Linked DNA regions of Homo sapiens. The protein of the gene in region 3 interacts with the protein of the main gene of each other region in a pairwise test. Each region holds a gene or a part of one and is shown on either strand. Other genes may lie near its edges. The genes, in order: SPTLC3, SPTLC1, SPTSSB and SPTLC2.

The links.
Region 1: the proteins of SPTSSB (region 3) and SPTLC3 interact in a protein complementation assay, tested with the Homo sapiens proteins (one study listed by IntAct).
Region 2: the proteins of SPTSSB (region 3) and SPTLC1 interact in a protein complementation assay, tested with the Homo sapiens proteins (one study listed by IntAct).
Region 4: the proteins of SPTSSB (region 3) and SPTLC2 interact in a protein complementation assay, tested with the Homo sapiens proteins (one study listed by IntAct).

What each region holds. Positions count from the first base shown.
Region 1 is NC_000020.11:13,011,056-13,019,762, forward strand, and holds part of SPTLC3 (serine palmitoyltransferase 3), read left to right. Parts: intron 1-8,707. UniProt on the Homo sapiens protein: Component of the serine palmitoyltransferase multisubunit enzyme (SPT) that catalyzes the initial and rate-limiting step in sphingolipid biosynthesis by condensing L-serine and activated acyl-CoA (most commonly palmitoyl-CoA) to form long-chain bases.
Region 2 is NC_000009.12:92,112,414-92,121,580, forward strand, and holds the start of SPTLC1 (serine palmitoyltransferase 1), read right to left. Parts: upstream 3,001-9,167; 5' UTR 2,958-3,000; coding exon 2,901-2,957; intron 2,654-2,900; exon of another isoform or gene 2,509-2,653; intron 150-2,508; coding exon 42-149; intron 1-41. UniProt on the Homo sapiens protein: Component of the serine palmitoyltransferase multisubunit enzyme (SPT) that catalyzes the initial and rate-limiting step in sphingolipid biosynthesis by condensing L-serine and activated acyl-CoA (most commonly palmitoyl-CoA) to form long-chain bases.
Region 3 is NC_000003.12:161,342,826-161,347,752, forward strand, and holds the end of SPTSSB (serine palmitoyltransferase small subunit B), read right to left. Parts: intron 3,531-4,927; 5' UTR 3,499-3,530; coding exon 3,268-3,498; 3' UTR 1,973-3,267; downstream 1-1,972.
Region 4 is NC_000014.9:77,514,897-77,523,603, forward strand, and holds part of SPTLC2 (serine palmitoyltransferase 2), read right to left. Parts: intron 6,686-8,707; coding exon 6,550-6,685; intron 3,272-6,549; coding exon 3,142-3,271; intron 1-3,141. UniProt on the Homo sapiens protein: Component of the serine palmitoyltransferase multisubunit enzyme (SPT) that catalyzes the initial and rate-limiting step in sphingolipid biosynthesis by condensing L-serine and activated acyl-CoA (most commonly palmitoyl-CoA) to form long-chain bases.

The DNA.
Region 1 (8,707 bases), on a different chromosome or scaffold from region 3:
ATATTTAGGTGTCACTAAGCTACAATTGGCTTTCATTGAGAGCCTCAATTATGGCTTAAAAAATATTTTTCAGAAAAACAAACGAACAAAAAAAACCCGGCTGAGATCATAGTGTAATAGGGCAAACGAGGGCTTATTGTCCCCTCCATGATGGGAACGAAGTTGTCTTTACTCTCAAGTTCCTTTGCCACCAGTTTTGATCCTTGGGACCCTTTAACAAACTAGGCCTAGACCAAAAGCCTTGCCTGTGGATAGAAGCAGTCTGCAAAGGCTTACAGAATCCTAGGCTGCTGGTCTCCCAAACACGTTCTGCCTGGCCTAACGTCTTCTGCCGCAGCATCTAAGATCCTACCAGCCCCTCCAATGATCCTCCCACCCTTTCTCTTCCCACTTATTTGCAACCACACAGCAACACAGTTATCTCTTTTATACATTAGGGGACCCTACAAGATTCTGTTGACAAAGGGTTCCCTGGCATAACAAACATATGAAAATTACTATTAGGCGGTGCTCATGAGTCCTCCTTCCCCCTGGTCCAGCGTAGGCTGCCATCCCTGCTCCAGCCTGCAGCAGGCTTGCTGCCCCAGTCTCAAGGCTGGCAAGGACCAGAGCCTTTCCATTCTTAGAAACCTTCTAGAGTTCCTTTCTGGAGCTTTTATGGAGCCTGACTATTTTTCCTGTTTTTTTTTTTTCTTTAAACCTCATATGTCCTGAGAATGCACAAAAACTGGTTTTCATCACTGACTAAGTCCATTTATTTGTTTATTCCCAACATGGCCTCCTACCTTTTACTTGTAACAGGACACTATCATACTAGAGGATTTGTTCTCCCTCTTCATGAGCATATCCACACTACAGACAGATGGGTGCTTAAAGTCTTAATCTATAAACTTGATATTTCTTATAATTTTTATTGAATTAAAATTCTTCCTAATGAATAGGAATTTCCTATTCCTTACTTAATTCTATATAATTACTTTGCAACTATTATCCACATAATTGCTTTTTAATTCCCAGCAATTATTTTTGACCTGACCATAAACTTTTATTTGGAAAACCAAAACCTAGGAAGGTAGACCTTGTGTCTCCATTGCATTTTCCCAGAAGTAGTTTCTTAAGAGGATAGAGTCTGCATTTTCTTCTCTTAAACGAAACCTGCAGGATGAAAAAAAAATTGTAAAGTTTTCCTAATCATCCCTTTCCTGGAAAACAAAAATGTTTGGGGATTAGAGTTACTCTAATTCAAGGTTTATTGAGTTCTTGACCTGAATGTTGTAATATTACCAGGTATAGGTTATGAGCCCTAACAGGTGGTTGCTTTTTTTTCACCAATACTTATTAAGCATCTGTTATTCTTAGGACCTATAAAGATAAATAAGAAGTTTACAATTTATCTGTTAGGAGAAAGCTTATATCAACATTAAAATAATCACATCAAAGTTAAATGCTAGTGCAAGGACAAGAGCTGCCATAAAGCAGACATAACTTGAGTACAAATGAGTGGTATAGATACTAGTACTAGAAGTTGGAGAAGAGCAAAAATAATAATAAATATCAATATTCTGCTATGTATCAGGAAGGGCTAAGCACTTCAGGCAGGCATCTCCTGTACCTTCAAAACAGCCCCATGAAGTGGTAGTATACTGTCCATTATACAGATGGGGAAAGATAAATCACTAAGGAACTTCTGAAGAATCACAATCAGCATGGCCAGGATTTGAGCCCAAATCCAAGTTGCTCCAAAGCCAGTTCCTTTTTCAGTATGTTCTAGGAAATCACAAGTTGGGGTGGTCAGTGACAGCTTCTCAGAGCAGAGAAGACTCAAATTGAACCTTGAGACATTATAATTGCAGAAAAAATAGGGAGCTTATTCCTGAGGGGCAAATGAGGAAAAGACAGGAAAGGAACTCCAGAGATGAATGTAGGAGTTGCTAGTAAAGGGCATAAGAAAGGTCATGAAGCATTCCAGGAAGCTGTGAGGCACAATAGGTCATGTGACTTTTGAGAGACTTTTCTCAATTCAGTGAGCCTTCATCGCAGACAGTGAGAAGCAGTGCTGTGGCTGAGGTGGTGCTCAGCAGATGCTGGAAGAAGAGAAAGGATTAAGCCACATTATTATGGAAATCATTTCCAGTTTTAGAACCATTTAAGCTGAACTTCTATTCTCCCCACCTTTCTATATCCTCTTGAAGTCTGCAATATCCTGGTAGAGCTACTCTTCTGCTGTAGTATAAACTTCTTCTAGAGAATAAGAGCAATGACTGATTGATAGTTTAATTGCAAACAGTGGTAGCTGCCTGACAGCCGTGGTAAGTACCTGTGTCTGTGGGGCTCACCTAGGCTACCCCCTGATTGAAATAGAGGTCAATATTCTCTCCAATTACTAGGAGAATTCATAAACTAAAAGTTTTGGAAATCCCTTTCAACTGCTCTGAGTCTTCATCTTAGTCTTGTCTTTGGTGTTCATTTTCTAATGCCTTTGTTTCTTGGCTCCTATTTCCTTAAAACAATCCCCAATGTGGCAAGGCTTCTCCATGAACTCCTTAAGGAATCCGCAGTTTTTCATGAGCTCATCATTTATAAAGCATTCTTGTGTGTCAGGTGCTGCAGTCATTAAGATGAAAATATTCTCCCTCCATTTATAAATAGCTCACAGTATAAATGAGAAAGACAAGCAATTATAGTATTTAATGGTAAGTACTATAGCAAATGTTACAGTTATCTATTCCTATGTAACAGCCAGTCCAAAACCCAATGGCTTGAAACAATAACTATTGGATTGTTCATGATTCAGGCAGGGGCTGCTAGGGATTGCCTTTCTCTGCTCCACGTGGTGTTTGCTGCAGATCAACTTGCCTGAGCATCCAAGATCACCCCATTCACATGTCCCAGACCTTGGTACCAGCTGTTGTCCAAAGCACCTTGTGTCTACTTCACCAGGACACCCTCTGCATGTGGTCTCATTATTCTGCAGAGTAGCCCAGGCTTTTTTACAGGATGACTGGCTTCTAAGAGAGTAAAAATAGAAACTACAAGACCTCTTTTATGTCCTAGGGACATTTCTGCTACATTCTGTAGACAAAGCCAGTCATAGTCCAGCTGAGATGCAAGGCGAGGAGAAACAGATGCTGCTTTTTTCATGACAGAGGCTGCAAAGTCACATTGAAAAAGGTTGTAAGGGATTGGAGAGATTATTGTGACCATCTTTGGAAATAGTCCACCACAATAGAAATATATGGACCTTGCATGGGAACACAGAAGAATGTGTATCTGACCTAGGCTGGGAAGACAACTTGCTTCAGAGAGGCATTTGACCCAAGTCTTGAAAGCAGAGTAGCCAGTTGTACAGGCATAGAAAGGCATTCCAGCAGAGGGAAAGGCTGTTAGAAGGATATAAAATATCAGAGCATTATGCCTTTGGCCAATGAAAGATGAGTTCATGGTAGGAGGTTCAGGATGCTTAATGGAAAGAACCAGGTGGGAAAAGATTGTAAAATGCCTTTGTCTTAGTTTACATTCCCCAAGAAACAGACCCAGAGATAAAGATTTGAGTGCAAGAAATTTATTAGGGAGGTGAACCCAGGAAGCACAGAGGAAAAATAGTGAAGTGAGGCACAGAAGGGAAGGAAGCCGATACGCTCATGAGCAAGTTACCATTGTTGGCAACTGGGACTGAGACTTGTCGGGGACATCTGGGAGATGGCGTACAACACATCTCAAAGCTGTCTAAATTTAAAAAAAAAAAAAAAAGATAAATGTCAACCAATTCCGGTCCATAATCAGTTGAGGGATGCTCAGCACTTGTAGACTTTCCACACATGGGCTGAGCACACTCCTATGGCAGAGAAAGCCCTCAAGCTGAGCTACAGGTGCTTGCAGTAAGAAATCACCAGAATGGAAGAAGGTCTGGATGCGCCAAGAGTGTCTTTTATAACCATTTATATGTGCAAGTGATGGAGGTTTGAGAAGGGAATTAGCATGATCAGATACGGTTTCTCCCAAACTGTGTAAGCTTTATTTATGGTGACTCTTAGAGCATGGTTTATGAATTAGCCCTGATCTAATGGGCTAATCATCATACAAGACAGGATTATGCTGTTAAGCAACATAAACAGAGCTTACCCACTGTGTTTGGCAAAGGAGAAAAGGGATATATCAAGGGTAAATATTATTGCCATAATTTGTTCCCTTTGCACTCAAGCAAGATGAAAAACCAGAAACCATGAACAGCTTAGCAAATTTTAACTATATAAAAAAACTAAAACTTAATATGGCAAGAAGCATCATAAAGGGTAATGCATAAAAAGCAATTGGAAAGCATGACTGAAGTAAAAACTCCTTTACAATAGCACCAGAAACATGAAGGACCTGGAAATAGATTTAAATAAAATGAAAATCAATTGGAAGGGAGTATGAAAATGCTACTGAGGGACATGAAAGGAAACTGAAAATAAGTGGAAAGGCATACAACACATGTAGAGGAAGACTCAGGATGAAAAATGCATTAATTCTGCCTAAGTTAACCTATCAGTTTCTGTGTAAGTCCAGTAAATAAATCAACATATTTTTGAGCCAGACAAATGACATTGAAGTTTATGTGTAAAATTAATAAGGAAGAATAATTGGAAAGACTATGATAAATAATAATAATGAGGGTGACTAGCACTACCAACTAGTAAATCATGTTGCTCACCAAAAGAATTAGAATGGTTTTCTATTAGTACATGAACAGATAGATAAATATTATAGGTAATTGTTAATCTATTAAAGTATAAGAAAATATCAATTTTAAAATAATATTTACATGGGAAAAGTCTTTATAACTATGATATAATACCCAGGAGCCATAAAACAGGAGGTCAACAATCTGACTACATAAAAATCAAATATTTATTTCTGCATGGCAAAAACAAAACAAGAATAACACCGTGAAATAACCAAAAGGCAAATTACAGACCAGGAAAATGTTTAAAATTTATATCATAAAATGCAATTTTCTGATTATATAAATAACTTTTAGAAATGAATACAAAAAGAGGCCAAACACCAGAAAGAAAAGAATGGACAAAAGCTATGATGAGGGAAATACAATTTGAAATACAAAAGGTAAGGAAAGGAAGAGAAAGAAGGGAAGAGAAGTCAGAAAAGGGAAGGAAAGGAATATGCTAGAATCAGTTTCCATGAGAAAAGAAAGAAAAGTCCATTTTCTCAGTTTGTGTGCATTAAGTGCAAAGTCAAGTTGAAACTTAGTTTGAATAATCTAGTTATTTTGATCAGTTTAATAATGATAATAGTAAAGCTAATAAATCAATTGTTGATGGGTGCTACATGCCAGGTCCTACTATGTAATTTGCCTCATTGAATTCTTATAGCAGTAATGCAAAGTGGATATTATTAGCCACATTCATACAGATGAGGAAACTGATGCTCTGAAAACATAAATAACTTACCCCAAGGTCACACAACTAGAACAAAACTGGGACATAAACTCTAGGCTATCTACCTTATCCTAACTTCTTACTTCAACAACTGTCGAAGACCCCATGATATTATCTACTTTCTATGATAATAGGCTTAGAGACCTTTATTTAACAACTGAACATAATACCAGTTGTCTAAGGTATCAATAATATACTTTTAAAAAGAAAGGTGCTTATGCTTTCACTGTGACTAAAGATATTGAAAGACATCAAGCTCCAATAGCTAATGCATGTTGGCCTATAGTTAAATCTTTGGGAGGTAATCAAGAACATAATAATTATAATAATCTTTAACATGTCTTGAGATCTTCAAAGTGCCAGGCATTCCCAGTGCTTTATGTTCATCATCTCACAGCATTCCTATGAGGTATTATTTTTGGACCCATTTTATAGGTGAGGAAACAGAAAGCTTTAGTAACTCAACCAAGGTCACCAACTTATAAGTATCAAAACCAGGTATGGAAACCAAGTTTGTTCAATCCTAGAACCTAAGTTCTTATCCTTTAGTCCACGCTTCCCCTGTAAACACAAGATAATGTTAGGCATGGGATTCATACCCACTTCCAGAGAGAAGGGGCCAGCAGACACAGCCTTAAAGGGCAGAGTCAGTGTGAGTTAAAAGAATGGTGAGTTGTTTTGTTTTCCTGATTTTTCATTCTTAATAAAAATTTTAGCTTATCACAAATGACACCAAACTGTCATATATCTGTGCTTTCAATAGGCAATGTTATTCACTCAGAGACATACCACATTAGTGAACCTGTCACCTCCATGCCTCACTTTGAACAACTCTAAGCTAAAGAAAATTGACCTCATGTGACTCTGAGTCATGTGGACTCACACTTAGCCCCAGTCAGAGCTTGAGAGATAGTCTGGCTTTCAGGAGCTTTTTTCAAGAGTACATGGCCTCCCTGAATAGAAACTTCACTTAGTACAATATTTTCTGGCAATACTGATATCTTAGACATGATGCAATAGATCAAGCTTGTCGACATGTGGCCTGCAGGCTGCATTTGGCCCAGGACATCTTTGGATGCAGACCAACATAGATTCATAAACTTTCTTAAAACATTATGAGATCTTTTTTGTGATTTTTTTTAGCTTATCAGCTATCATTAGTGTTAGTGTATTTTATGTGTGGCTCAAGACAATTCTTCTTCCAATGTGGCCCTGGAAAGCCAAAAGATTGGACACTCCTGCAGCAGATGAAAGATAGTTACAAATTCTTTGGAGTATTTCCCATTGAGAGGTAGAATCTAATTCTAATCCACTTGAACCTGGGCTAGACCTAATGACTTACTTGACCAAAAACGTGATGGAAGGGACAATCTGGGACTCCTGAGAGTCAGTTACAAGAAGACTCGCAGCTTGAACCCAGTCCTTGTAGAGTGCCCATTCTTGGAATCCAGCCACCATGCTTTAAGGAAGCCCAAGCAGCCCAAGAAGTTCAAGGAGAGAAACCAAGTATCCTTGCTCTGTTTCTAGCTGAGATGCAGTACCAACTTCTAAACTGTGTGAGTGATGTATCTTGGAAGTGAATCCTCCAGCCCCAGGGTGTGTTTGCTCCAATTGATACTTCATGGATCATAGACCAGCTGTCCCTGTTGGGCTCTGCCCATATTAAAAATTCTTGAGCAAATAAATAATTGCTGTTTTAAGTTTGCTGGTGGCTTATTAAGCAGCAATAAAAACTGAATACATGGATATTATATTTCCTTAAAATGACTAGAAAAGTCATTGTGCAATCTCAGTACCATTTTCAATGCTTTCATTTATATTTACATTTACAGAGTTTGCTTTGACCATGAATTTGCTATTAATCATTGGCAAAGACACATTTTCATAAGTTATAAATTTCTGTTTTGTTTGGCATAAGGACTGTATGCTTAAGCCCTTAACCAGAGATGAGTGTCCGGCTGTAAAAGCCAAACACAATGAACCTAAACCAATGCAAAAGCACACCCATTTGAAAATTGCCAAATCTGAAGTGTAATTATTAACCCTTAGGAGGTCTGTAATTTATTACATTGTCTATGAAGAAATAGTTGACTCAATAAAGTGTGTGTGCTCAGGTGTTTCATTGGCTTAATTAACATATTTTAAGTATTTTTAATATCTGCCAATTACAAATTAATTTTATCTATTGGTTAAAGCTTCCTGGAAAAATTTTCTCTCACTGTTGAGGTAAATTGATATTAACCTAATTAATTGCAAGAAGTCAACTATGCTGATTTTGAAATATATTTAATGTTTTTAGTAAATATGGCTACCTTTGTCTCAGTTGGCCTGTACTAATGTAGTTTTACTGGAATTCTAAGGTATTACAATCTATAAATTTACGACAGAAAGATCTATTGCCACCATATTAGAAATATTTTCCGGTGATTTGGAGTTCAAATTAACTATTTTGGGGGAAAAACACTACAAGCATAGCTCAGAGAAATACTCAAAATTATCCTCCACAATCTACTTCATCTATCTATCACAGTGCCATCTGAATCCTGCTCTCCTGAAGAGTTTTGACATATTGAAGATCATCTGAGCCCAGCGGAGTTTCAGATTGCAAATGCCTAGAGGAGCTAGCAGGGCCTTGTGTAGGACAGTAGGAGATGGTAAGAATGGGTTTAAATGAACAAGGCCTGGTGTTTCCAAGAGACAGAACAGGCTCCATCTTGATAGTTTTTCCAACTTTTAAAAGAAGCTGGAAATCCAAATTGAGGAAAGGAGGTCTCATGATTTCTAAATGTTGGCATCTAATTTTTAAAAATTCAAATCCTGTGGATTTAAAGAAAACATTGCTAACAAACACCAATTTGTAACCTCTAAACTATAGGCAAACAGAGTGTAGGAAATAGGCTAAAAAGTCCTAAGTACAGTGCTATTTTCTCATTTGTTTAGGAAAAATGGCTCAGAGAATTTGGCTCGCCTCGATTTAATTTACTTTATATTTCAAAAAGTGATAGATGAGTCTTCCACCTTCACTTTCCTGAGTTGATATATTAACAATTACCCTAGACTCTGCAGGTTTGAGGAACTCTTATGACCAGCTACATACACTAGATTTCCTTGACTAACCCAAATCTAAAATATTAAGTCCCAAAGTGTTCATCAAAGTGTTAGAGACCTGGTGATATTTATTGACCAAACCACAACTCTCAGATTTCATAGTCAGTGGTGCACAAACCTTCGTTAGATGATGTATTCATGAAGTCTAGTCACCAAGATTG
Region 2 (9,167 bases), on a different chromosome or scaffold from region 3:
ATCACATACCCAATAATTAAAACAGAGATTTAATTTCGTACCTTGACTGTAAGATCAGATCGTTCTTGTAATTTGTAAGTCTTAGAGAAAAGAAGTCTGATTATCCAGAGGATCAGAATCCCTTCCAAAATAAGATGGTAAGCAGGAGCCTAAGAGTGAGTCAAAAACAAGTAAGATATGAAACATACACTTCTAACACCTGCACATAAAATTTACTACACCTGCATATACTGCCTCCTGTGACTTTTAGCCTATTCTTAACAATTTACTTTCGAAGCTCCCTTAATTTCTATTCATTCCTTTCCCCATTTCTAATAGCAGGCAATTTCTCCCTCACATGAAAAACCCCTAATATTTTTAGCTTTTAAAACTTCTTTGGGAATAAAAATTAAAATTAAAAAAATAAAATCTAGGCCAGGCGTGGTGGCTCATACTTGTAATCCCAGCACTTTGGGAGGCCAAGGTGGGCAGATCACCTGAGGGCGGGAGTTTGAGACCAGCCTGACCAACATGGAGAAACCCTGTCTCTATTAAAAATACAAAATTAGCTGGGTCTGGTGGCGCATACCTGTAATCCCAGCTACTTGGGAGGCTGAGGCAGGAGAATCGCTTGAACCCAGGAGGTGGAGGTTGTGGTGAGCCGAGATCACACCACTGCACTCCAGCCTGGGCAACAGGAGCAAAACTCCGTCTCAAATAAATAAATAAATAAAATCTAACACAGAATCCCAATATTAACCATCGGATTATTTAATTTCAGTGGTTCTTTTTTGGGTACACTATACAAGACTACTCAAATTCTACATTCAACACGCATAGGATTTGGGAGTAAGAAGTTTATGATGAATTTTAAAATTTGCTCATCCCCCTAAATACAATTCATTTATGAATAAGTCTAAATACCCTTTTAGTTTTCTCAATAGTTGGATTCTAGCAAGCAAACATCTGCCCCAGCCACTAGTTAAGAGCCCACTCCAAAAAGAAATCACCCTAAGAAAAGCTGAGAAACTCTCTCTCTAGTGAATTAATAAAAATCACAAACACCACTTCTTTTCCTTCCCAGGAAATGTTACATACAGGAGTTCTCCCAAGTCTCACTGTTGGACAGTTTCGGGGAATGAGAAGTTACACTACTGTCAGTCTTCAAAAAGGGAGCAAACAACATTTAACAGAAAATAATCCATTTCTTTAAAAAATCATTTATAAAAAAGATCATTCAATTTTAGTGGCTCATTTTAGGTCACTACAGTTAACCTAATACTGGGCATCACTTAATACATGAGCATAAGACAGAGCCACATCTGCTGTCTCTGCTGTTTCAAGATAAAATTCCCAGTATGTCCTGCAATGGAAGACACTGTCATTACCCCTACCAGTAGACGGTGATATTAAGTTTGGTGATATTAAATCATCAAAAGTAAAGTGAAATTCACTTGAAATGAATGTAAGCTCTTTAAGCACAGGGACTTCTGCCTATTTGTTCACCGCACTATCCCTAGCATCTAGATCTGTGTGGTCCAATGTGGACAGTCACTAAGTTACACGTGGCTATTTAAGTTAAATTAAAAATTCAGTTGCAGCTGGGTGTGGTAGCTCATGCCTGTAATCCCAGCACTTTGGGAGGCCAAAGCAGGAGGATTACTTGAGGCCAGGAGTTCGAGGCCAGGCTGGGCAACACAGCAAGCCCCCGTCTCTATTAAAAAAAAAAAAAGATTAGTTGGGCATGGTGGTATGTGGTCCCAGCTACTCGGGAGTCTGAGGTGGGAGGATCGCTTGAGTCTGGGAGGTCAACGCAGCAGTGAGCTGATCGCACCACTGCACTCTAGCCTGGGCGACAGAGTGAAACCCTGTCTTTAAAAAATAAAATAAAATAAAATAAGTTCTTCAGTGCCCAATGAATAGCTCTGCAAGACAGCACGGGGACTCTCAGTTATTAAATGAATGAACACTAAGATTGACATTCTGGTTTCTTATTATCTTATGTATCTGAAATAACTAGGCTTCAAAAAACTCTTAACTATTCTTCCTTTAAAAGTCTACGGCCAGGTGCAGTGGCTCAAGCCTATAATCCCAGCACTTTGGGAGGCCAAGGCGGGCGGATCACCTGAGGTCGGGAGTTCGAGACCAGCCTGACCAACATGCAGAAACCCCGTCTCTAATAAAAATACAAAATTGGCCGGGCATGGTGGCACATGCCTGTAATCTCAGCTACCTGGGAAGCTGAGGCAGGAGAATCGCTTAAACCCGGGAGGCGGAGGTTGTAGTGAGCCGAGATCACGCCCTTGCACTCCAGCTTGAGCAACAAGTGCGAAACACCGTCTCAAAAAAAAAAAACAAAAATAAATAAATAAAAATCGACTAAACTAGTTGTATCTTTATAAGACAGAAAACTGATGTACGCAGAAGAATGACAAACTATTTTTTATTCACAAATCCTAAGTCACTTGATTTCTTTTCGACAAAAACAAACTCCAATTTATTACAATTTTATTCCCCAACGAACTGTACCGTAGTTCCAAAGAGCTGACTTCCTTAGGACCTTCCCAGACGAAGGTGTTCCACTCATTTTCACCACTCCGTTTTATCGTCCGTCTAAACTCTGGTTTTTGCAGACCTGTCTCCTGCGTCCCCTTACACGTGTTCCTTTCCGGAGCTTCCAGGGGACCCGGAGCATAAGAATTCAAACCGAGACCCTCAGTCCCAGCCCCCGCCCCCGCCCGTTCCTCCCTACACTCAACCGCTGGGACTAGAAGCTCCCGGCAGTCCTTCCAGCAAGAGGCACCGAGTCTGGGCGTGACCGAGCCAGTCCCGCCGAGGTCTCAGGCCACAAATCCACACGCGTCCTCCCACCCTCCCCGGGCCCGGGTGTGGTCGCGGACCGCTAATGGCGCGGAGCCCACCTCGTAAAGCGCCTGTACCATCTCCACCAGAACCCACTGCTCCGTGGCGGTCGCCATAGTTAGCCGCTTCCTTCCGGAAGGCGGGTCACAAGCGCGTCCCAAAAGTGCGCGTCGCTGCTCAGTGTCGTTATCACCTCCGCAGAGGGCGGGGCGGCGGAGCGCTGGGCACCGCCTACTCGCACTTGCGCACTGGTTGACAGGAGGCTGGACGGGGTCAGGTGGGATGCCGCAGTTTTTCCAAGAATTGTTTACCTTGTGTCCTATTACCCTCCCTGCTGGATTCAGGATGGAGAAAGTAGTAATGAACGGGCCTTACACTTGGTCATCAGCTGGGCGCAGAGAGTTAAAATGATTGCAATACGTTTACTTTATTTTTTTTTTTTTGAGACGGAGTTTCGCTTTTGTTGCCCAGGCTGTAGTGCAATGGCGTGATCTCGGTTCACCGCAACCTCCGCCTCCCGGGTTCAAGCGATTCTCCTGCCCCAGCCTCCCGAGTAGCCGGGATTACAGGCGTGGGCTACCACGCCTGGCTAATTTTGTATTTTTAGTAGAGACGGGGTTTCTCCATGTTGGTCAGGCTGGTCTCAAACTCCTGACCTCAGGTGATCCGCCTGCCTCGGCCTCCCAAAGTGCTGGGATTAGAGGCGTGAGCCACCGCGCCTGGCCAATACGTTTACGTTTAGTAGCATAAGTAATCCAGCAATGCATTATCATTAAGAAATGCATAATTATACACAAAAATAGCCAACCCATATAGCACTTCCTGTTTTGTCAGACATAGGCCAAGGCTTTGCAGGTATTAAATCATATAGCAGTTTGGTAAAGAACCTTTTAGAGCCTTCCAATGCATATGCAAACAGTATGCACGCGCACATACTTAATTGGATTGGATTTCTTAAATATAATTGAGATCATAGGGACAAGACTTTTCTACAACTTTTTTTAAATTTTTTTTCTAGCATTTTTTTCCTAATATATCTCATATTTAATGGCTGAAGACTTCCATGGAATAATTTATGTATATTCATCGTTCCATTTTATGTAAACGTTTCCCTATTGGTGAATACTTATGTTGTTCCCACCTTTCCCCTATTACAAATAATGCTGCCATAACTGTCGATGTTCCTTGTGTGTATATCTTTCTGTGCATGTTGGAGTTTTTCTGACCAGTTTTTTCAACATGGGATATATCTGAAGACTATGCACGTTATTAATTTTGATAAGTACTGCCAAAATGGCTCAACCAATTAAAATAATTTGGAAGTTTTTCTATGCTCTAGTCCATGATGGATATTATCAATCTTTTAAAAAAATTTGCCAGTTTAATGGAGATAAAATGATACCTCACTATCCTTTATTATTGATGCTTCTGGTTACTCATGAGGTTGTGCAGCTTCTTATATGTTTATTGGCATTTATAGACTGTATGAATCGCCAATTCATATTCTTAATCCATTTTTCTATTGGTTATTTTTGCCTTCTTATGGATTTGTAGGAACTCTATACATTCTGAATATCTTATATTTTTCTGTTTCATATGTGAAAAATATTTTTGCTCAGTTGCCGCCTAGTTGTTTCTGCTCTTTCATCATACTTTAATTTTAAATTTTATGTAGTGCTTCAGTCTGTTTTTTGCCTCTGGATCTGCATATTGCTTAGAAAGGCCTTCTTCACCACATCTATGGTTTCCAACCATTCTTGCAGCAGTTTGTTGTTATTTGCAATTAGCTCTTTACTCTGGAAACTATATTTTTGGATAATGAGAGTTAAGGGACTTAATTATGTTTTTTTCTAAAGGAATAACAATTTTTTGAGTGCCATTTATTTGAGTAACCCTGACTTTCCCCAGAATTCTGAAATGGTACCAGTGCTATTGATACAGGAGCCAAAAAGAAATTATTTAGGCAGATAGTGAAGGTAAGAGAGTCCTCAGCAGAGCTTCTTTCTGAACAAAAAGCAACCCCAAAATTATTTCTTTTTTGCAAAGAGCAGCCTGAAAAATTGAGCTACAAACATAGATAAGCAAGCTGGCAGTGCACGGGAGAATGCTGGCAGTTGTGCCGATAGAAAAAGACTACCTGGAAGCCAGGTATGTTCAATATGGAGACTCCATCTTCCATTTTCTTTGTCACCACGTGTACAGTGAAGGAACAGGCAACATGGCATCAGTCAGGTAGAGAAGCCATCTGCAGAATAAAATATTAGGGTGGGAAGGCCAGCTTCTTCATGCACTATGCAAATGGCACACCTGGTCCAACCAGTCTTTCATTCCCTACGTAAATCAAACGCCACTTCCTCAAGCTCATCTATAAAACCCTGTGCGTTTCACCGCAGAACTGGCAACCCATTTTCTCTGGGACCCCTTTCTCTGCACAGATAGCTCTTCTCTTTCGTTTGCCTATTAAACTTCTGCTCTTAACCTCACTGTGGTGTGTCGCGTCCTAGTTTTCCATGGCTGTGGGACAATGAACCTCAGGTATTACCCCAGATAATGATGCCGCTACACTATGTGCTACATTTCCACATAAGCTGGCGATATGGAGTCCGTGTCAGTGCTCTGCTCACAGTCCTGTGCTTGCGTGCATTTCCTCCCCCGGGTGCTTTCCTTCCAGCAGCCACGCCTGCATTTCTCAGAGGACCCCCTTGAAGGCTGCCATTCCCACGTTTCCTGCTCTCCTGGAGAGTTGGAAGTATCTGAGAATGTATCTTCTCCTGGGCAGTACTTACCAGTGTGGATTACTGATGGTAGCTGGGATATAAATATTGCAGCTTCCTTGCCCTACTTAGCAAGACAACTCTGAGGGGTGAACTTCACCATACTCTCTGCAATTCTGAGTCAATGGTACTATCTGCAAATTCTTTTACACACTCATCAAAAGGCATATCTTTGTGGCAGCTTCTATAAGAGAATACAGCTGCCATGTAGAAAGATCATGTGAGAACCACATAGAAGGGGAAAGAGATGACTAAGGGGCCCCAGCTGCCCCAGTCCCTGGCTGTTTGAGTCTTACTAGTCCAGGTACCAGACGTGTGAGGGACGACACCTTCGAGGTGGCTCCAGTTCCAGCCACCATCTGGTTACCACCACTGAGAGACCCTGAGTGAGGTATGCCTAGCTAAGCCCAGATGACACCCAAATGTGTGGGCAAAAATAAACGATTGTTATTGTTCTAAGCCACTGTTTTGGGATTGTTATATTTTGGGATAACTGGAAGGAATACACCGTGGGACTTTGCTTGATTTGGAACTTTTGCTTGGCCTCTGTATCAGTTTCCTAGGGCTGCTGTAACACACGATCACAAACTGGGTGCCTTGAAACAGCAGAAATTTATTCTGTCACATTTCTGGAGGCCAGATGTACAAAATTAAGGTGTTGACAGGGCTATACTCCCTCCAAAGGCTCTGGGGGGAGAAGACTTTTTTTGCCTCTTCCAGCGAGAGCCTTAACTTAGTTACATCTGTAAAGAACCTTTTTCCAAATAGGCCATGTTCCCAGGTTCTATTCCCTGATTCGAATGTTAACATGTCTTTTTGGGCTCTACCATTTAACCTACTATAGTCCAACCTCTGGCCTTCCAAATTCACATCTGCCTCATGTGCAAAATACATTCATTCCGTCTCAACATCTCCAAAAGTCTTAACTCTCACCTAAATATCATAAAAATTAATTCAAAGAGTCTCAAATATTCACATATAAATAATCAGGTGTAGGTGAGTCTATGGGTATGAGCTATGCAAGGGCAAAATTCCTCTGCATCTATTGACTAGTGAGACTAGAAAAGAAGTTACCTGCTTCGAAAACACAAAGGTGGGCCACGTATATGATAGACAATCTCACTGCAAAGCAGAGAAATTAGAAGGAATAAAAGGGTCATCAATCCCAAGCAAGTTAGAAATCCAACAAGGCAAAGTCATTTGGTTTCAAGGTCTGGGAATAATCCTCTGTGGCTTGAAGCTGTGTCTTTTGGGCTCATGGCTTCATAGGCCTCTTTGCTCATGGCAACTTGGTAGGTCTCTGCTCTTGAACATTCAGCCTCTACCCCTGTGCCCATGACCCTGTCCTCATAGTGATTCTTCCTTTTTCTTGAAGGGCAGCACATGCTGATACCTGAGTAGTTCTATCAGTCCTCTTCTTGCCTGAAGAATTGTGCATATCTGACAGCCTCTCTTTCACTTTGTCCTGTCTCAGCCCCTTCAGGCCAAGCTGACAGTGTTTCTTCTGGTACAACCTTCTCAAGAACTTTTGAGGCTCCCATGTATGTCACAGGGATCCATGCCATTAGATAAAAGAACCCCCACAGATCTTTCCTGGATAACGCTGGATCTATCCTTGGATCCGTGAGATAATTGAGGGATCCATCAGTTGTATAGCAGATCTCTTCAGCACAATATTGTCTAGGCACACCCTCGGCCCTGTATCCAGAGTACACTTTCCCAACAGTGAGTTTCCCAATTTTAGCATCTTTTGCAATCTGAATAGGCCGAGAAGCTCCCAATCATCAAGTGTTGTTTCTTTTTGCTTAACAGCTCCTTCCTCAATTTGCTTATTTCCTTTTCTGTTTCATTACAAACAGCATGAAGAAACCAGGCTGCATCTTCAACACTTTGCTTAGAAATCTCCTCAGCTAAATATCCAAGTTCATTGCCTACAAATTCTGCTGTCCACCTAAGGACACAATTCATCCAAGTTATTTGCCACTGTGTCACAAGGATCACTTTGCCTTCAGTTTCCAGTAACATGTTCCTCATTTCCTTCTTAGCCTTCAACATAAACCACTTTTAACATCTGTATTTCTACTAACACTCTGCTCATGATGAGATATACATTTCTAAGATGATGGAAGAATTCTCTACCATGCTCTTCACTTCCTTCTGTTCCCTCACCAGAATTGCCTTTAAAATCCATAACTCCACTAACAGTCTCTTCAAGAAATTCTATGACTTTTCTCTCAAGTACCTCAAAAACCATCCAACCTCTATTTATTACTCAGTTCCAAAGTCACTTCCACAATTTGAGGTATTTATTAAAGTAGCACCCACTTCCTGGTACCAAAATCTGTATTAGTTTTCTAGGGCTCCCATAACAAATTGCCACAAACTATGTGGCTTAAAACAGACAAAATTTTTTTCTCCAAAGTCTGGAGATCAGAAGTCCAACATCATGGTATTGACAGAGCCACTCTCTTTCTGAAGGCTCTAGGAGAGAATCATTCTTTCCCCTTCCAGGTCCTGGTGGCTCCAGGAATTCTTGGCTTGTGGCAGCATCACTGTAATTTCTACCTTAATCTTTTCATGGCCATCTCTTCCTGTATGTGTCTCTCCTCTGTGTCTCTTATAAAGTCACTTCTCATTAGATTTAGGGCCCACCTGGATAATTCAGGATGATCTCATCTTGAGATCCTTCATTACATCTGTTAGGACCCTTCCACCAAATAAGGTCACATTGACATGCTCTGGGGTATAATAGGGCTCTCCAGGGAAACAGGATAAATAAAACATATATAGATCTCTACATAAGAGGAGATTTATTATAATGATTGGCTTGGCCAGGCGCAGTGGCTCATGCCTGTAATCCCAGCACTTTGGGAGGCTGAGGCGGGTGTATCACCTGAGGTCAGGAGTTCGAGACCAGCCTAGCCAACATAGTGAAACCCCGTCTCTACTTAAAATACAAAAAATTAGCTGGGCATGGTGGTACGCACCTGTAATCCCAGCTACTTGGGAGGCTAAGGCAGCAGAATCGCTTGAACCCGGGAGGCGGAAGTTGCAGTGCACCGAGATTATGCCACTGCACCCCAGACTGGGGGACAAGAGCGAGACTTTGTCTCAAAAAAAAAAAAAAAAGGCTCACATGATTATGGAAGTTGAGAAGTCACACAATCTGCCATCTGCAAATTGAAGAACCAGGAACATCAGTGGTGTAATTCAGTCCTCGCCCAAAGGTTTAAGAACCAGGAGGACCAAAGTCCAGGGGCAGGAGAACATGGATGTCCCAGCTTACACAGAATGAAATGTACCCTTCCTCTGCTTTTTTGTTCTACTCAAACTTTCCATGGATTGTATCATGCCCACCCACATTAGTGAAGGCAATCTGCTTTATTTAGTCTATGAATGCAAATGCTAATCTCTTCTGGAAACACCCTTACAGACGCACCCAGAAATAAATATTACCAGCTATGTGAGAATCCCTTAGCCCAGTCAAGTTGACACCTAAAACTAACCATCACATGGAGATTAGGACATAGGCATGCCTTTTTGAGATCCACC
Region 3 (4,927 bases):
CTTCATCATCCCCAACCACCTGTCGCTGTCTCTCTAGCACACTAGTGTTTTCTTTTTAAACTTTATCACAATTCATAAATATTTTGCTTGCTTGTATTTTTGTTGTTGTTGTCGTTATCTTGCCTACCAGATACTATCATTAATAACTCCAGAGATGTTTCTGCTTCTGTCTCATTCATTTTCATTTTCTAGTACCAAGCCCAAAGACTAGCACATGGTAGGCTTTTATTCCCTATGTATTTTTTTAAAAGTTTCAAACATAATGTTAACAGAATTTGACAATTAATGCCTGTATACCTAGCATCTAGTTTCTATTGTTATGTTTTCCTCATCACATATTTTTTCATTTTTCCATCCTTGTATCTACCCATCAATACATGGTTGACTTTTAATAAATTTATTGAATGAATGAATAAGTGTTACTCTTTTAGTCCATAGTCAGGAGCTGTCCATCTTTTGGTTGGCCTAATACAGACACTGAGCTTCTTTGTTTTTGTGTGGTCACAAGGTAGAAGGAGCTATATAATGTCCTCGTGGGTGGGAATTTGCTAAGCCCTGTATCAGGAGATTCAGAAATAAGGACAAATCTGCCTTCTAGAATCACCCCAGTAAGAGGATCTAAATATATTTGTGATGGAAGAAGAAAAAAATAGGAAATGTGGATGAGTGTTTTTTTTCCACAAACAACTTAATGAAGATTGGTTAGTCCTATCTTGATATTTAAACTGCCTGATATCTTGACATTTTGTGTTTTTTGTTGCACAAGCAGATAAAAGTAACTGTTGACTTGGCCAATACCAGGGAAAGAACATTTTACAATTTCTCGTTCGGTGAGTGACAAATGCAAGCTCACCGGAGCCATGGAACCTTTGGCCTTTCTTGTTTTTAAAGTTCTGTACACATCATTGAAATATCCAAGTAATGGAAGCAAAGGAAAAACACACAAAAAGTGTTTCTAATCTAGGCAAACTGGGGTCAAGGTAAAGAATGTCTCTCTCCATGTCTAGAAAATAAACTTAGCAGGCAGGGAAAGTAATGCTTACTCTTCTTTCCCACTACATGCTGATTGATAGGTTTTTTTTCCCAAACTATTTTTGATTATGTTTTTTGGACCCTGTATTTATTATTTTGACTGCTCAGAAGAAACACCTTCGAAGTGACATCCTGGGGTGGTGCTTTGCAATAATCTTTTATTAAGCTTTGCTGTGTCTATTCATGTTTATTTTAACTCTCTTATTTTTAGATGGAGGATTTTTTGAGAAGGTCAATGCAGTATCTTTGTGATTGAATTCCAGGAGTACTTAGCAGGGGTCCATGTATATAAGGGTGTTGAATCATTATGAACTGGGAATGCATCCAAGTTCATGCTTAACTGAGAATTCTCTTTAAATATTTAGAAGTGAAAGCAATCTTTCAAAATAGTCATGTGGGCCTTGGAAGCATAGAAATGGGTGAACACAGCATCCTAGGTACAGCAGCAAAGGTGACAGCTGGGACCTCAGCTTATCATTCCTCCAACCTTGGCTGTCTCCTAACGCTCTTCCTTCTATTTGATGGAGTTCTACTTTCAAACGTTGGTGACACTCATCCCATCAACTTTCATCTGTTCATTTTGTCCTCCCCTGGGCTTTCGTGTGCAAAATATTTGCAGGGCCCGGTGTGGTCCTGACCTGGATTTGCATCCTTGCTATGCTACTAGTAGCTACTAGTAGCTAATCGACCTTGAACAAGAAATGTAACTTTTTCAAGTTCCAGGCTCTTTACCTGTAAGTAGGAGACCTTTATACCTACTCCAACATGGAAAATGTGTCCAGCATGGAGAAGTCCCTTGATAAATGTTAGGTTTTTGTTACCGTTTTAACACCAGTTACCACATTGGATTACTAAAAAATGATAAGCTGGGGAGAAATATGCAATGTAACATCTAGATATTTAGTGCAATATGAATAAAAAGTAAATCTGGAAGTAGATATTTACTTACAAAATTAATTTTATTTTGCAAAACTCAACAAATACATGTTCAGATCTGGTTTCTCTTCAAAACATGTGTTTGTTTTTTTAACAAACATGCAAGTTAATTTGGCATGCCAAACATCTTTCTCTCTAGCTCACCTTGGAAAAATTTTTTTCATAACACAAACAAGGGTGCAAATATTGTCCAAACCTATTTACATTTTTACCCTCTAGAATTACATACATTAATATTTATTGGGAGGAAAGCAAAACTGCAAAACGTAGTCTTTGGCATTCACATTTGCTTCAGCAGTATAATTAAAACCTTATATTTGTTTTAAAGATAAACAGTTTGAAGGAAATTTAATAAATCTTGTTTTGGCTCTGCAAAGGAGCCACTATATCAAAGCATTTAACTGGAGCTGTTGAGTTCCTGCTGGTAGAATATTACTTCCAGCCTATTTATTAGCTTGTCTTCCGGTGGCCCAATACATGCTTTTTTCCCTCTACACTGAATGAAAGTACAAAAAGAAAACCATTTCTTTTCTCTTTTTCCCCCAGCATCATGCAAGGCAAGGCAACACCACAAATACAATAACTGAATTTACTTTGATTATACTTTAGTTTCTTACACTTAAAATTATTTTGTATTATAATACTTACTTGGTTATCTAAAATCAACATTGTTGATTTTAAACGGTTATAAAGCCAGACTTTAAGAAGCATTTAAAACAATTCATGAACTCTGTATGAAAGGAAATAATTGCCTCCAGCTTATTCTTTTGCATTTGAAGTAAAAGAATTTCCAGTATCATCAGTTTACTAGAAAATAAGACTTAGGGGGTCCATATAATTTATTCACATCTTTTTATACATCGTAAACAAGGATAGGATACTTCTGACAGTAGCCTATAAAGATTTTTTAAAATTTATCCTTTAGTATAGAATAAGTGTCAAGGGAGCACTTTAAGCATGATTCTGGTAGGTCTGTTAGGAGTCTATTTTCCAGAAAAATTTTGTAGGAAATTGTTCTGATTTTAAATAAACTAAATTCATAGATTTGTGTTGACAGAATATGATTTGTGAGGTAAAGTCACTGTATTATCTCCGGTCTAAAGCACAATGTAGCATGTGCAAAAGAAACTAAAGAGACATGTATTTCAAACTCCAGGCAGAAAGGCAGAATATAAGAGTGCATAGAGAAGAGAGTGCTTTTCAGGTCAGATAGTGAAGGAAGACACAATAGTTACCTAAATCAATAAGCTGTAAGCAACATATAAATATGCAATGCCATTTCACTGAATGTGAACAGGATCAATTAGAAATTGTACTGTGATATCCACATATTTTTGAGAAAAATTCCCAAGCCAGGCGAATGTGGATTGGAATAAAGACATAGGCAGTGTATACCACCATAGCAATAATGGTTAGTAAGATGGTGTTAAACATAGATCGCTCCCAGGGCTCTAAAACAGCACAGCAGCTAATGATTTGGTATTGATAGTAGAGCCAGGAGAAATATTCCTTCACACGCCTCAAATCCATGGTTGGCTCCTTCAAGCTGCAGTAAGTTTGTCCTGTTAAAGAATGTAACAGATTAGAGGATGAGGAACCAAACATAGAATCACTTTAAAATTTCATGATCTCAGCATGTTAAAATCTTTCAAAGATTTGTTAAAGATCATTGAATATATTATTAATATATGAATATTCTGTAAAATAATACATACTATATTAACTATAAAAATTAATAATATTGTCACCACTACTAATAATCACTACTAAAATTGGCAGCAATAATACTATTAGTAACAGTAACATCTATCTAAACATGACAATTGTTAGAAATAACTTTAGTGATAATGGTACCTAAAAATTGAGGTTAGCCTCATTTTCCTGAGCCATGTATACAAAGAGAAATAAAAGTGAACCTAAGCACAGCTCTGAGGAAGAGACTTTTGAGATAAGGTCCAAGGGATCATTATGAGTCAAATGGATAGAATAGACAGTGAAGTAGGGAGAACAGCCAAGACAGAGGGAACAATATGTACAAAGGTTGGAGGTGGGAAGAAGTAGGTTGCTTTTGAGGGGCCACGGAGGGAGAAGGGAGCAGGGAGTGTGATGACACTGAAGAGGTGGGAATGGCCACAGTGAGGCCAGAAGCTGTAGGGCCTAGTTGGATAAGTTAACTGTTTTATCTTCAACCTCTGAGTTAGGGCAATGCTGTGGTGGGTTTGAGAGGAGGAGGCTTTAAGTTCATGTGGTAATGCTGCATTCTGGAGTCAAGTTGAAATGACTTTGGAGCCCAAGTATTTCAGAAAATCTGTACCTCTACTCTTCCCTAGGGCATTACTGTTTCAGAATCAACAGTATACTGAGAACCTGTTTAAAATATTCTTAAATACTCTTCATTTTTACAAATGAGATAATATTGCTTATTTAGAAATATTATTAACTTTTCTCTATATGTTGTGGCTATTTATTTATTTATTTGTTTTTGAGAGAGTCTCACTCTGCTGCTTAGGCTAGAATATAGTGGCACAATCTTCGCTCACTACAACTTCCACCTCCCAGGTTCAAGAGATTCTCCTGCCTCAGTCTCCTGAGTAGTTGGGATTACAGGCATGCACCACCATGCCCGGCTAATTTTTTTTTGCATTTTTAGTAGAGATGGGGTTTCACCATGTTGGCCAGGCTGGTCTTGAACTCCTGACCACAGGTGATCTGCCCGCCTCAGCCTCTCAAAGTGCTGGGATGACAGGCATAAGCCACTGTACCCGAACTTGTTGTGGCTTTTACAAATGCACTAATTGTCGGGCTCGGTGGCTCACGCCTGTAATCCCAAAACTTTGGGAGGCCAAGGCAGGCGGATCATCTGGGGCCTGGAGTTTGAGACCCGCCTGGCCAACATGGTGAAACCCTGTCTGTACTAAAAATACAAAAAATTAGCTGGGCATGGTGGTGGGCACCTGTA
Region 4 (8,707 bases), on a different chromosome or scaffold from region 3:
TTATGTAGTCTTTGTTTTGGCTTCTTTCATTTAGCCTAATGTTTTCAAGGTTTATCCATGCTGTAGGGTTAAAACTTCACTCTTCTGCATCCAGCTGACCTAGTACTGTTTGTTGAAGAGACTATTCTTTTCTCATTGACTGGTCTTGGCTCCCTTGTTGAAAACAAATTGGCCATAGATGCTTGTGCTTTATTTCTGAACTCTGAATTCTACTTCACTGGTCTATACGTCTATCCTTATGCTAGTACTCGACTGTTGTAATTACTGTAGCTTTGTAGTAATTAGCTTTGTTTTAAAATTAAGAAGTGTGAGTCCTCCCACTTTGCTTTTCCTTTTCAGTACTATTTTAGCTATTCCCTGCCAGTTCCATATACATTTGAGGATCAGCCTTTTAATTTCTGCAAAAAAGGGCCAGTGGCTTAGGGTCTCCCAGTCCATTTTTTTCTGAGAAATGCTGAACACAGGATCTGTAGGTTGCTATACTGCCATCTTAACAATATTAAATCTTCCAATCCATGAACACAGGATGTCATTCCATTTCTTTAAGTCTTCTGTAATTTCTTTCAGCAAAGTTTTATAGTTTTCAATATACACATCTAAAAATACAGTGTACAAGTGTAAATTAGCCAGTGTACAAGGGAAAGGCTTTTTTTTTTTTTTTTTTTTTTTTTGAGACAGAGTCTCGCACTGTCGCCCGGGCTGGAGTGCAGTGGTGCGATCTCAGCTCACTGCAACCTCCGCCTCCCAGATTCAAGTGGTTCTTCCGCCTCAGTCTCCCGAGTAGCTGGGATTACAGGTGCCCCCCACCATGCCTGGCTAATTTTTTGTATTTTCAGTAGAGATGAGGTTTCACTGTGTTGGCAAGGCTGATCTCAAACGCCTGACCTCCCAAAGTGCTGGGATTACAGGTGTGAGCCACCGCACCCAGCCAGGAAAGGCTTTCTTAAGTTTATTACTAGGTATTTTCTTCTTTTGAAAATTGTAAAAGAAATTTTCTTTTCATTTGTTCATTGCTGGTGTATAAAAGCACTAATTTTTTGTGTGCTGATCTTTTACCCTGCAACTTTGATGAATTCATTTATGAGCTCTAGCTGTGTGTGTGTGTGTGTGCGCGCGCGCGCATGTGTGTGTGTGTATTTTACAGCACTTTCTATATACAGAATCATGTCATGAGGCCCATTATTAAATGAAAATTAATTTGTATCTCATAATGGTCTAGTACACGTTTAGTTCCATAAAACATCATAAGACAAAATGACTTTAACAAATCCATGGTTTCAAAAAATGCACTTTATGCTTTAAAAAACTAAATGGGAGGCAAAGCCCAACAATCCCTCAAGAGAATCTTATGAAAAGGATTAGAACTCTCAGTTGGCAAACATACTTGTTGGCAACAGAAATCTCCTTAGATATCCTAAGGAGATATCCTGGTTACATCTAAATTCTTTCATGAATGTGTACAGTTCTCAGAAGTCAAAGTTGTGGTCAGAAGGCATGGATTACTGCCATAGACACTGGTTATAGTTACACAGACTTTTTTTTAAAGGCACATTGAAATTCTGAGTTAACAGGTGAACATGAGAAAGAAAAAAGAAAATTCTTAAAACATCAATAGAGTAGGAAGGAAAGAAAAGCTGAAATCTCTAGGTTAAAAAAAATCATCACAGAAATTCACCAGTAAAATTTCTGAGAAATGAGAAAAATCCATTGGAAAAATCTGACAGGCATAATCAAAATAAAGAAAAAAAAGATACAATATCAAAAAGTTGAATCTAATTGGATATTGTCAGAATGTAATTAAGAATATGCTCACAACACTGTGCCTATAGTTAACAATACTGTATTCGACATGGAAAAATTTGTTAAGAGGACAGATCTCATGTTAAGTGTTCTTACTACAATTTTGTTTTTTAAAAGGGAATACACTTATACTCATAGAAATTTTGCTGTGTAGAAACAGAGAAGAAAAGTCAAGTCTTCGGCTATTCAGGAATACAAAATGTCCATCAAATTGTTATAATTAACTTTTATAAAGAAGCATTCATAATGTTCTTTAGGATTAGTAGCTCTTGCCAGGCAGTGGCTCACGCCTGCAATCCCAGCACTTTGGGAGGCTGAGGCAGGCGGATCACCTGAGGTCGGGAGTTCGAGACCAGCCTGACCAACATGGAGAAACCCTGACTCTACTAAAAATACAAAACTAGCTGGGCATGGTGGCGCATGCCTGTAATCCCAGCTACTCAGGGGGCTGAGGCAGAATTGCTTGAACCCAGGAGGCAGAGGATGTGGTGAGCTGAGATCACGCCATTGCACTCCAGCCTGGGCAACAAGGGCAAAACTCTCTCTCAAAAAAGAAAAAAAAAATTAGTAGCTCTCTAACTCATTAATGGATATTTCTAGCAACTAATTTTATGCAAATGTCATGTTCTAAAGCTTTATAAACTCCCAGATGGCAATAATGATTTAAACTCTGAAATCTTAGACTTGCAACAATAACATATTAAGAGAATATATAGAGATGAGAATATCTTGAGATAATAAATAATTAAGCTTAGTAATAATGATCCCCAACTAGATGCCTGGCAGTGTGGTGGGTGCTGGGATATAGAATCAGTAAAACAGACTTATTCCTATCCTCAATATTTATCTAATGGAGAAGACTGCTATTAAATAATTATAGGTGTGAAGAATTTAGTAAGGGAGAATCTCAGGATTCCAAGGGAACACAGAGCAAGAAGGTGTGGGGCGCCCCTGAGCAATTTTCCTTTAAATGGAGATGTGAAGAATGAGTGGCAGTCAGCCAGGCAGAGGGGAGAGAAAGCTCAAGAGAGAAAATTTTAGACAGAACAACATATGAGAAAGCTTAATGTAGAAATAGCTAGAGTGGAAAGAGAATTGTAGAGTCCATAGTGAGGGAGACAGTAGAGCAAGACAAAGCCGGAAAATTCTCCAGAGCTCTCATGATGCAGGTGTGGTGGGTGACAGTTTTTTTGTAAATGCCAATGTTTTTGGTAGCACTGTCACCCCCTCTGTCTTAGGTGCTCACAAGAACATCAAGATCAATATATTATGAATTTCATCTAATATACAGGCCCTTTTAATAAAAGGCATATTTATATCAAGGTGAAAGTGCCTACTTACAGTATCAAGTATTTCTTTGGTATGAGCTGCTGACAGGCAAAACCTGGCTCTGGACTCAATAATTGGGGTGGCAGGAAATCCAACCACAACGACACCGATGTTCCGCTTCAGCATCTCCCGTCCAAAGGCGCTGCAAAGGGGAAAACAAGAACAGAAACCAGGAGGAGTGAAAAAGCACTCATTACAGAGGACCTGCTGTCCTCAAAGATTTCAACTCTTTGGTGATGCAGGCATTGGAGACTTCTAATAGGAGTTTCCTTTAACTCCTTTTAAAGTTAAAATTGACAGCTCACAAATACTTTTAAAGTCAATCCTAAAGCAGTCTTCTCCTATATGGTGTCCTTCACAAAACTGAAATAACCAGCCTGGGCAACATGGTGAAATCCCGTCTCTACCAAAAATACAAAAAATTAGCTATGTGTGGTGGCATGCACCTGTAGTCCCAGCTACTCAGGAGGCTGAGGCATGAGAATCTCTCGAAGCTTGGAGGCAGAAGCTGTAGTAAGGCAAGATCACACGACTGTACTCCAGCCTGAGCAACAGAGCAAGGCTCTGTCTCAAAAAAAAAAAAAAGTGTCCCTGATATGTAATAGTGGTTCAGAGGCTTCAAAATGAACCTGTATTTAATTAAAATCTGGTCCTTGAAATGTTAAGCTTGGCAGTTTAACATTAATCCGCAAATTCTGAGGATTCTGCAGCTGTGGGGGATCTGCTGTAACACGGCACATCTTTTCTGCTAGCAGAATGGCTGACTGGCATGAGCTCTCCAGATCACACGTTTCTTTAATTGTCTTGGGAACAACACTGCTTCAGAATTCAGGGCTTCCTTTGGTGTCTGTCAGGCCAGTTCACCCGCTGGCTTCAGCTGATTACTCAGACCACACAATTCGTATTTAACAATCCCCCACCCCTATCGTAAGCCAAATTGGAGGCCCTGTGGCCTTACTCCACATCTGTATCTTGTCTAAATAACACATTCTAACTTTTAGTTAATTTTGTCTACTAAATTATGTGGGTTTTTTTTTGAGTCTCTCGCTTTGTCGCCAGGCTGCAGTGCAGTGGCACGATCTTGGCTCACCATAACCTCCACCTCCCAGATTCTAGCAATTCTCCTGCCTCAGCCTCCCGAGCAGCTGGGATTACAGGTGTGCACCACCACACCCAGATGATTTTCGTATTTTTAGTAGAGACGGGGTTTCACCATGTTGGCCAGGATGGTCTCGATCTCCTGACCTTGTGATCCACCCACCTCGGCCTCCCAAAGTGGGATTACAGGTGTGAGCCACTGTGCCTGGCCCAAATTATGTTGCTTTTTGTCTTTTCCTCTTATTGACCTCCCTTATGTTTCAACTTTTCCTTTAAGCTGTTTACAGCATTTGTTTGAGAATAAAAAAATGTGGCCGGGCCAGTGGCTCGTGCCTGTAATCCCAGCACTTTGGGAGGCCGAGGCGGGCAGATCACCTGAGGTCAGGAGTTGGAGACCAGCCTGGCCAACATGGTTAGACCCCATCTCCACTAAAAAATACAAAAATTAGCCAGGTGTGGTGGCACACATCTGTAATCCCAGCTACTGGGGAGGCGGAAGCACAAGATTTGCTTGAACCTGGGAGGTGGAGGTTGCAGTAAGCCGAGATCACGCCATTGCACTCCAGCCTGGGCTATACAGATCCTGCACATTTGGCATTACATTAATGCCAGTCTTTTCACAGCCTTTTCCCACTCTCTGTAGTACCAGTACATCTTCCTCAACATACCTCCTTTGTGTCAGCATGAACCTGGGTGCCCTGTATCTTCAGCACATGCTCCCAAACTGTCTAGTGCCTTATTCTAATTCTTTACCTTCTCTAAATCTTTTTTTTTTAACTTCTTAAATGCACAAATTTATTTTTTCTCAACAAACACACATCTTAATGCCTTTACAACTTTTATCTCCCCAAATATACCTTGCTTTTCTTTATACATGCTGTATACAGAGTTGTTTTCCTTATATTTAGTAGTTATTGCTTTTTTGTGCCCTTTTGGGTCCTGTACCTTCTCTAAATCTTTCCTAATTAAAGTGTACACAGTCAGTTGCACCTATGTAGAATAAAGGAGACACAGCCTTCTTTAAAGAGAGCTCTAGACTGAGTCCTTTGGATCTGATAACTCTTCATGTTTGTTTATGAGAATTCCACTTAAAGAAGAATGAAGAAAATCCTTCCCCATCCCCTCTGAAGCCATAATACCAACTGCCCATATGACTTCATGTTGAAACCCAAATTCTTCTTTTTCTCTCAGGGAGCACCTTTTCCTTACTTCCCTTTCATTCTCTTTGAATCACATTACTTCCAGGTTCCCTGATTTAATTTCCTCTCCCATATTCATTTCAGTAAACATTTACTGAGTGTCGGAGACTGTGGTGGACACTGGGGATTCAAAAATTTACAAAAATTGCTCCTTCAATGAGTTCAATCAAACTGGAGAAATGCTTTAAGATCCAGCTCAAAACTCACCCATCCAACAAGATGTGCCTTTCTTACTGAGCCTATACTAAGCAGGTCACTCCTTTATTCTACATCTTCAGGGCCACTTTGCATATAATAAAATTTGTTCAGTATAATTACTGTTCATTTGCTTTTCAAATGTCTTCTGGTTTCATTATACATCTGGACTTCTCAAATACATTGAAAGCTATCCTAGGGCAGGGCTTTCCATTATGTATGCCTCATACAAACCAAAGAAGCTGGTGTAATCTGCACACCTGGTAAGTATCCAATAACACACTCTGATAAAACCTCTCTGACCTCATGGCCCACTGCTCGCCCTGGGGCACGGTGCTCCAATTCCAGGGACCTCTTTGCTACTCTTCCGTCAGCTAAGCAAGCTCGCTTCTGTACTGTGGCCTTTGCACAGATGCTTCTTTCTCCAGTGGCTGTCAGCTCCTTCAAATCTTTGCTCAGATGTCATTTTCCTTCCCAAGGAGGCTTCCTTACCCTGACCACCCTATTTAATAGTGTTATCGGCCCGCCCACAGGGCACTCTCAACTCCCCATATAGGTCCTGCTCTATTTTTTTCCATAGCACTTGACACCTTCTAACATCGTACACAGTTCATTTGTTTATTATGTCTGTCTGACTGTTGCCCCCTACTAGACTGTAAGCTCCACAAGGACAGAGATGTTTGTATTTTATTCACTGATCTATCCCAGGCCCCTAGAGAGTACATGAAACTCAAATGTTTAATGAAAGAAGAACAAATTAACATACTTTACAATTTGGAATCCACTATTTGATCTATGGCATATGTACCAAATGAAGGTTAACACAGTAAGGACAAGACCATTTTCCCTAACAAAATACATAAGCCCTGGTCTCACATCACAGATAAGGATAAGGACAGACTGGTCTGTGATCTGCAACAAAACGTACCCAATTTTGGCAGGCATGTAGAGCATCAAAGGCACTACTGGAGAGTCTTCATTTCCATAGATGATGAAGCCCATCTCTTTCAGGCGTCTCCTGAAATACCTGGTGTTTTCAGCTAACTGTTGTACACACTCTTTACCTGGAAAGTCACGGTGAGAGAAAACAAAATAATCCTAAGTAAAAAGGAATGGAAAAAAGACAGTAAATCTCCTCTATCTCCATTCTATCTAATCAGTTCTGTTTCGTTTTTTTCCATTTCACCATAAAATATTTTACAGAGTAAACCATATGGAATATAAATGTAAAATGTCTCATTTTGTATTCTGTCATTCTACCTGTTAACAGCAGAAGTTATAATAATGTAAAAAACGTTTAATGGAGCGTTAGCATCCTCAAAGAATTTCAGCCATACCCCCTCACTGAGCACTCCACAAATCCCTTGACAGTAGGCAGGATATTTATGATTATCTTCATATTATAGGTGGGGAGACTCTCACCAAGGTAGTGACATGCCTACAGTTGCACAATAGTGTGTGGCACATTACAAGTAGCAAGTGGCATAGCTGCAACTAGAATTTACATCTTCTAACTTTAAGATTCATTCTAATTAACTGTGCTGCAAATAAATTTTACACATAAGACCAGAGATGAAGCCTTTAGACCCCCAAATTTTCATCTTCTGAGTTTCATTTTGTTGTTTCCTTACAATTCTTTTTTTCTTTTTCTTTCTTTTTTTTTTGAGACGGTGTCTCACTCTGTCGCCCAGGCTGGAGTGCAACGGCACGATCTTGGCTCACTGCAATCTCTGCTTCCCGGGTTCAAGCGATTCTCCTGTCTCAGCTTCCTGATAGCTGGGGTTACGGGTGCACATCACCACGCCCAGCTAACTTTTGTATTTTTAGTAGAGACAGGGTTTCGCCATGTTGGCCAGGCTGGTCTCGAACACCTAACCTCAAGTGATCTACCCACCTTGGCCTCCCAAAGTGCTGGGATTACAGACATGAGCCACCGCGCCTAGCCTGTTTCCTTAAAATTCTTACCAGACAACAGTAACATATCTGTAATAGTATAAAATCGTATCTTTAATCCTATTTTGCTCATCTTCCCTAAAACACAAATAGATTAAAACACACGTTTCTGTCTGCAATTGCCAACTGACTAAATATTTGGGCAGGTTTTGACATTATGGTAAGTCAATCTTTGAAAAGATATCCAAACAACTGTTCTGTTATACAGAGCAAAGCAATAAATTTAAAAGATCTGCTTGGAAAGGGCTAAGAACTGTTTTAGAATCTTCTCAACCATGAATACTCATGAATAGAAAAGGCTGCAGTAATTTTCATATATAGATTATAAAATCAGCAAGTTCATATTTTTAAAAGTCCAAGCATGATACATGACATAAGTTCTTATGACAAATTAACCAGACATACAGATAGCTAACAATGTCCTTAGAATCAGAATACTAACATATCCATCATTCATGGGAAGCTACTCTATATAAGTTGGCCACAAATAAGTCAAAATTAATACTCTTTATGTAGATAATTTCAAGTTGATCACAGAAAAACACTCAAGCTTAGATTAGCCTAGTGTGAGCACTGAAGAGCATCATTTATGTCATCGCTTAAGTTACAAAGAAGAAAGCAGACATTAAAGTGTGTTATATTTAAGTATGTTGGGAACTGATGAGCCAAGTCCCCTAACTTCCCCCTAGAAGTATCAATACATGCTTAATTTACATTTAGAAGATGAGACTTCTTCTGGCCATGGAGTACTAGAGGCTGGATTTATCTTCCTGCTGTAAACAATAGGAAACTGGACAAAGTACATAAACAATGACTTTTAGACATTGAACCACGGGGAATGCCAGACTGTGCTGCCTGAAGGCAGGTTGCAGGCTGCTGCACAGGGAAGGAGGGCCCAGTCTTGCCAGCTGAGGACATCTGAGATTGGAGTGGAGAGTGGTCAGTTGAGATCAGAGCTGGGGAGGCTGCGGGGGCTAGAATTTGTTGGGCAGTGTACAGGAGCAGGGAGGTGGGGTGCGATGAGAGAGCTTTAGAGATCTGCTGAAGGGTCCCTTTGAACTTTGGGAAGGGTACTGATTTCTATACGCATGAAAAGAAACTAGCAGAGGCTGGGGAAAAGATCCATCAGAAAG